Linked DNA regions of Homo sapiens. The protein of the gene in region 2 purifies or fractionates together with the protein of the main gene of each other region. This does not show direct contact. Each region holds a gene or a part of one and is shown on either strand. Other genes may lie near its edges.

What was found. Proteins that work in one complex are often made in the same cells at the same time.
Region 1: the proteins of RIOK2 (region 2) and HECTD1 purify together in Homo sapiens (affinity purification with mass spectrometry; 2 studies listed by BioGRID and IntAct, with this or other methods). This does not show direct contact.

Annotation. Positions count from the first base shown.
Region 1 is NC_000014.9:31,103,068-31,106,822, forward strand, and holds part of HECTD1 (E3 ubiquitin-protein ligase HECTD1), read right to left. Parts: coding exon 3,579-3,755; intron 2,602-3,578; coding exon 2,523-2,601; intron 2,410-2,522; coding exon 2,316-2,409; intron 1-2,315. UniProt on the Homo sapiens protein: E3 ubiquitin-protein ligase which accepts ubiquitin from an E2 ubiquitin-conjugating enzyme in the form of a thioester and then directly transfers the ubiquitin to targeted substrates.
Region 2 is NC_000005.10:97,176,501-97,180,255, reverse strand, and holds part of RIOK2 (serine/threonine-protein kinase RIO2), read left to right. Parts: intron 1-1,062; coding exon 1,063-1,201; intron 1,202-2,407; coding exon 2,408-2,524; intron 2,525-2,964; coding exon 2,965-3,140; intron 3,141-3,755. UniProt on the Homo sapiens protein: Serine/threonine-protein kinase involved in the final steps of cytoplasmic maturation of the 40S ribosomal subunit. Involved in export of the 40S pre-ribosome particles (pre-40S) from the nucleus to the cytoplasm.

The DNA.
Region 1 (3,755 bases), on a different chromosome or scaffold from region 2:
TACATCGTACATGTAACGGAAACACAAAAAACAAACATACAACTCAGTTTCCAAGTTACGATTCCAAAATACCAAATTTCAAACCAAAATACCCATTATCAGAATCAATCTAAGTATCTATCAAGGGATGAATGTGTAAAGAAAATGTGGTATATGTACACAATGGAATACTATGCAACCATAAAAAAGAATGGGCTGGGCACGGTGGCTCACGCCTGTAATCCCAGCACTTTGGGAGGCCGAGGCAGGCAGATCATGAGGTCAGGAGATTGAGACCATCCTGGCTAACACAGTGAAACCCCGTCTCTACTAAATATACAAAAAATTAGCCGGGCGTGGTGGCGGCTGCCTGTAGTCCCAGCTACTCGGGAGGCTGAGGCAGGAGAATGGCGTGAATCCAGGAGGCGGAGCTTGCAGTGAGCCGAGATGGCACCACTGCACTCCAGCCTGGGACTCCAGCCTGAGACTCCGTCTCAAAAAAAAAAAAGAATGAAATCTTTTCATTTGTAGGAACATGGGTGGAACTGGAGGTCATTATATTAAGTGAAAAAAGCCAAGCACAGAAAGACAAGTATCACATGTTCCCACTCATATGTGGGAACTTAAAAAGTTGATCTTGGCCGGACAAGGTGGCTCACACCTGTAATCTCAGCACTTTGGGAGGCCGAGGTGGGCAGATCACCTGAGGGTGGGAGTTCGAGACCAGCCTGACCAACATGGGGAAACCCCATCTCCATTAAAAATACAAAATTAGCCGGGTGTGGTGGTGCATGCCTATAATCCCAGCTACTCGGGAGGCTGAAGCAGGAAAATCGCCTGAACCCAGGAGGTGGAGGTTGCAGTGAGCCGAGTTCGTGCCATCACACTCCAGCCTGGGAAACAAGAGCAAAAACTCCGTCTCAAAAAAACAAAAACAACAAAGTTGATCTCATAAAGGTAAAGAAAAGAATGGTATCAGAGGCTGGGAATGTTGCATGTGGGGGTGGATGAAGAGAGGTAGTTTAATGGGTACAAACTTACAATTAAATAAAAGGAGTAAGTTCTAATGTTTTCTAGCATAGTAGGGTGACTATAGTTAACAATAATATATATTTCAAAGAAGCTAGAAGAGAATAATTTGAATGTTCCCAACACATAGAAATGATAAATGTCCAAGATGATGGATGTCCTAAAGACTGATTTTATCATTACACATTCTGTGTATCAAAATGCCCCATAAACATGTACATATATTATGCAACAATAAAAAAATACCCATTACCGATGAAATGGACAGAAGATGAATATTCAACATTCATAAATGTTTGAATAAACAAGCATAAATTAAGACAGCTTGAAATTAAAACTGTATTTTAAATTAGAAATCCCTGCTTAACATCACAAACGTGAACAGAGAGAGAACATTCAGTTGCTATGGTCAGTATGCAAATTCTTATTACTACTCAGTCTGGAGTTCACCAGCTCTTTCTGTCATACAAGTCAGGCAAAACTGTGTTCTCATTTTCAAAAGTAATTTACCTTGTAATATACTTTGTTCCCATCATGATTCTTTCATGTTAATTCATCCTGATCAAGTAATCTAGAATGTATGCAACCTATGTCCACTTTCTTTCTTTCTTTGTTGAGGCAAGGTCTCCCTCTGTTGCCCAGGCTGGAGTGCAGTGGCACAAACATGGCTCACTGCAGCCTCAGCCTCCCAGGCTCAAACTATTCTCCCACTTCAGCCTTGCAGGTAGCTGGGACCACAGGCACGTGCCACCACATCTAGCTAATTTTTTAAAAAATGTTTTGTAGAGATGGGGTCTTGCCATGTTGCCCAGGCTGGTCTTGGAACTCCTGGGCTCAAGCGATCCTCCTGCTTCAGCCTCCCAAAGTGCTGAGATTACAAGTGTGAGCCACCACCACACCCGCACACCCGACCACCATCAATTCTTTTTTTTTTTTTTTTTTTTGTGCAGCGGAGTTTTGCTCATCGCCCAGGCTGGAGTGCAATGGTGTGATCTCGGCTCACCGCAACCTCACCTCCCGGGTTCAAGCAATTCCCCTGCCTCAGTCTCCCCAGTAGCTGGGATTACAGGTATGCGCCACCATGCCCAGCTAATTTTGCATTTTTAGTAGAGACAGGGTTTCTCTATGTTGGTCAGGCTGGTCTCGAACTCCCAACCTCAGGTGATCCTCCCGCCTCAGCCTCCCAAAGTGCTGGGATTACAGGTGTGAGCCACCGTGCCCAGCCGACCACCAGCAATTCTTGACCATAATTTCAACTGTCTCAAAGTGAAAGGAGAGCAATTATGCTAAAAATCCTTTAAAATTACCTCTAAAGGCTTCCATTTGTTTCTGAATACCCGTATGCATACAAAAGTCAAACATCAAATCCACATATTCTTCTGCATTATCCATTGTTATCATCTGCAAAAGAAAATTTGTCAGTATCTAGGAATATTTCAGGAGTGTCTAGTACAACTGGCCTTGCTAAGAGGATATGTCAGAACTTACAACTATATTAAAAGCAAACTTTTTACCTCATCTTCACCACTTGGCTTGAGATCCACAGCTGTAAAACCATATATTCTTGAGGAAGGGCAAAACTGGAAATTTAAACTGGGAGGACAAAAAAGATTAAATTAACTGACATGCAGCTACTACTAATGGTGTTTAATTTTTATAACATTACTATCATCTGCCATCAGTGGGTACAAGAGAAAAAATTAAATAAAATAACATGGCTATCAAAACCATAAATCCCACCCCTCTCCTCCTCCAACAAAATCAGTACACCAGCTTAGAAGTAAGTTGAGGACTTTTTAAATGCAATATTCTATGGACAAAATCTACTAGGCCAACTGTTATCAAATCTGTCTGGCTTTGCAAAGATTGCATGAAACCACCTTTCTATATTTTACTTCTAACTTATGGCACAAAATTAATGAACTAAAAATTTTGCAATGAATTATGACAGCAACATGTTTGTAAGACTTTTAGGAAGAAACTGTTGCTTTACTGAAGTCAATCACGCTGTGTACAAAAATATATATTAAAAAAAACCTTGAATATATAACCATTTATCAAACACAGTTTACCAACATTATCAGCAAACATTAAAAAAAAAAGGCCTTGCAGTTAACCTAAAATCACAGCTGAAGATATGATAATTACCTGTACATAAAGTAACAGAGTTTTATCAAAAGTTCTGCAGCATCTCAACTGCTACAGCCTTTGGTGATAAAGCTGACATACCAACCAATTTTTGAGCTTTGCAAAGTGAATCATATATTAGCAGATGAATTTGTCAAAATATTGTTGGCTCTGGACATTTTACACAGGCATATAAATTCACATTGGCTAAGTCAGGTAATCTTCTAAAGGTTTGATGATTAATAAACTAATATTCTAGTATTCTGAGTGTTGTCTTTATAATATTAAATCAAAGGTTCAAGTCGATCATCAATATTTCCTACAGCATATTACTGTTTTTGACAGACTATTTACTCATATATTGCAAATCAGTGACGACAAAGAAACAAAAGCTTTAAAACTTATTCATGCATTGGATTGAAGAATGTACATATAATGCTTACCCTAAATCCTCTATGCTAAGTGGAGGCCCAGAACCTGATGGATTCTTCAGCACTAGTTCCTGTAATTTTGTGTTCTTCTCATCTTCAGAAAGACCTTTGTTGCTTAAAATTTGGCGCCTCTTGATAGCAAGGTCTTTAATTTCTTTTAAAAATCTGGCTCTGTGTGGGTTTACTAAT
Region 2 (3,755 bases):
CACTTATCACTTCTTAACTTCTAATAAACTTAGATGTATACCATTTTTTAAAATTTCCATCATGAGATAAAAATTTCTCAGAGGTAAAAAGCACATATATATATATATATATACATATATATATATATACATATACACATGCAGAAGAGCATGTAGGATAGAGATATATATATATGTGCTTTTTACCTCTGAGGAATAAATTTAAAAATATATATATAATATATATATTATATATATATTATATATATATAATATATATATATTTTATATATATATATTATATATATATATAAAATACTTTTAAGTTCTGGGGTACATGTGCAGAACGTGCAGGTTTGTTACATAGGTATACACATGCTATAGTGGTTTGCTGTACCCATCAACCCATCCCATCTACATTAGGTATTTCTCCTAATGCTATCCCTCCCCTAGCCCCCCACCCCCCGACAGGCCCCAGTGTGTGATGTTCCCCTTTCTGTGTCCACGTATTCTTACTGTTCAACTCCCACTTATGAGTGAGAAAATGTGGTGTTTGGTTTTCTGCTCTTGTGTTAGTTTTCTGAGAATGATGGTTTCCAGCTTCACCCATGTCCCTGCAAAAGGCATGAACTCATCCTTTTTTATGGCTGCATAGTATTCCATGGTGTATATGTGCCACATTTTCTTTATCCAGTCTATCATTCATATATATATATATATCCTCTACGATGCCTACATGTAGTACTTTCTCATTAAATACCTGCTTAATAAATATCTGGCATATCTGTAGTTTTTAAAGACAAATGTTTAGGTGTCATCAAGTATTTTAGCATTGACCAAATGTCATCAGTATGTCTAGCACTCACAGTTCCTACTCTTGAAATGGAAAGCCAATACAAATATCAATGATTAGATTTCAAATTGCAATTAAAAATATTTTCAAGAGACGGAAGTGATTATGTCTCAGAATTAGTTGGAGAACTGCATAGTCAGGAAAGCTTCAAGGAGAAGTTAATTTCGCAGGGTTTTGATAGACAAGGCTTTGTGTTGATTATGATTATATAATGATTCCTTTAATTTCAGGTTGAAATGGGCATGAAGAACCATGAAATTGTTCCCGGCAGTTTGATTGCTTCTATAGCCAGCCTTAAACATGGTGGCTGTAATAAAGTTTTAAGAGAATTAGTGAAACATAAACTCATAGCTTGGGAGCGTACCAAAAGTAAGTATTTTGAGGCACCATTTGTGATTTTTCAGGTAATTGGTTTCCACCAGAGCAAGTGTTCCAAAAGTCAAGAAGTAGAAGTTGCCAGACTAGTAAAGCATTAGACGAAGAACTGACAGAACACACTTCGGCCATATCCTATTAGTCAAAATAATCACAGGGCACACCCAGATCAAAGGAGGTGAAAAAAGAATAGTAGTAAGAACATGTAGGTACTGCAGAAGAGCATGTAGGTACTGCAGAAGAGCACGTAGAGTACTGCAGAAGAGCATGTAGAGTACTGCAGAAGAGCATGTAGAGTACTGCAGAAGAGCACGTAGGTACTGCAGAAGAGCACGTAGGTACTGCAGAAGAGCAGGTAGAGTACTGCAGAAGAGCAGGTAGAGTACTGCAGAAGAGCATGTAGAGTACAGAAGAGCACGTAGGTACTGCAGAAGAGCACATAGAGTACTGCAGAAGAGCATGTAGAGTACAGAAGAGCACGTAGGTACTGCAGAAGAGCACGTAGGTACTGCATAAGAGCAGGTAGAGTACTGCAGAAGAGCAGGTAGAGCACTGCAGAAGAGCATGTAGGTACTGCAGAAGAGCATGTAGGTACTGCAGAAGAGCAAGTAGGTACTGCAGAAAAGCATGTAGGTACTGTAGAAGAGCATGAAGAGCATGTAGGTACTGCAGAAGAGCATGTAGGTACTGTAGAAGAGCATGAAGAGCATGTAGGTACTGCAGAAGAGCATATAGGATAAAGCTATTGTGGCTACCATCTTTGGAAAATACAATCAGTAGTCATACCCTAGATCATTACTTCTGAAACCATCTGTGGTGAAGGATTAGTTTTTTCCAACCTATCACAGATCCTTACTTTTATAAAATACAAAAAAATAATTACTAGAAAAATGAAATGGATAACAGATATACAAAAACAGACATAAATTCTAGGTCAAATTGATATACAAATTGAACTTAAATTCCTCCTTTTATCTTGTCACAAACACTTACAGACCTGTCTGTAGGTCACATTTTGATTATCAGTACACTGGAGAAGAAATGCAAATTATAGGAAGAAATTGGAAGCTTGTGAGCCTGGGCAGTTTATCTTTTTCCAATGAAGACTTTATTGTTAAATCTTTCTTATGACTTGAACTTACGTGACTTGGTTGTACAATGTAACTGAAATATGGTCTTTATGCTTTGATTTTTGTCTAGCTGTCCAGGGCTATCGGTTGACAAATGCAGGATATGATTACCTAGCTTTGAAAACACTTTCTTCTAGGCAAGTAGTTGAGTCTGTTGGAAACCAGATGGGTGTTGGCAAAGAATCAGGTAAGTGCTAATAGTACTGTGCAAAGTATTTTCTTTGCTTTAGTTTATGTTTTCCCTTCAGAAACCTTTCCTCTTTTAATTTTCCCTTTTTTCTAACTAAACAGTAAGTTGGAAAGTTGATTGGAAGCAGTACAAATCAGAAGGTGTCCTTAATTAGTAGGTTATTATTTTCTCTGAACGTCTATCACTGAAAATTCATTTATACCAGGAATTAATTTTCTTCTAATAACTCCCAAGATATATCATTATTTATGTGCAAATATACCAGAATCCAAAATTCAAAACACTTCTGGTCCGAAGGTTTTGGATAAGGAGGGATACTCAATCTTTATTAGGAAAAATGACATTTTTGATACAAATAAAATTAGAGAAAGTTAGAATTGTTTTAACTGATTGGAATAAACGTGTAATAATGGTTGTTTTTGAAATTTTGTCTCTAGATATTTACATTGTTGCAAATGAAGAAGGACAACAATTTGCATTAAAGCTTCACAGACTAGGAAGAACCTCGTTTCGAAATTTGAAAAACAAACGCGATTATCATAAACATAGGCACAATGTGTCATGGCTATATTTATCTCGTCTCTCTGCCATGAAGGAATTTGCCTATATGAAGGTATTTATTTTATTTTGTAGTCATGCATTTTTTAGCCAAATAATACATGTGTCTCAAAGGCCTTAATGACAAGTGTGATTCTGTTGTCCCCACATCTCTCTAACCTTAGACTCAATTCCTACAGACAGACTCAATCTTAAATAACTCTGTTGATTATTTGGGCTCTTTTAAGTGATTTCCTTCTACGTTAAGGTATTTTAAATTGTTACTAATGCATAAGGGCAACACATTCTGTAATGCTGACAAGATGAAAGAGCCAAAAGTAATTAATGATGCTGTTACCTCACAAATATGTATGTGTGGATGTATATATATCTATTCAATATATGTAACTATACATATGTCTGTTTCTAATTGAAAACACCAGGTAATTATCATCTGTAGAAACCTTAGTGTCTCAGATAAGTTGGCTAGTTTTTTGTTTCACATAAAGGAACAAACATTTATAGATTTATATGTATATTAAAAATGGTAAAAATTGGCTGGGTGCAGTGGTTCATGCCTATAATACCAGCACTTTGGGAAGCCGAGGTGGGCGGATTACTTGAGGTAAGGAGCCCAGCCTGACCAACAAGGTGAAACCCCATCCCTACTAAAAATACAAGAATTAGCCGG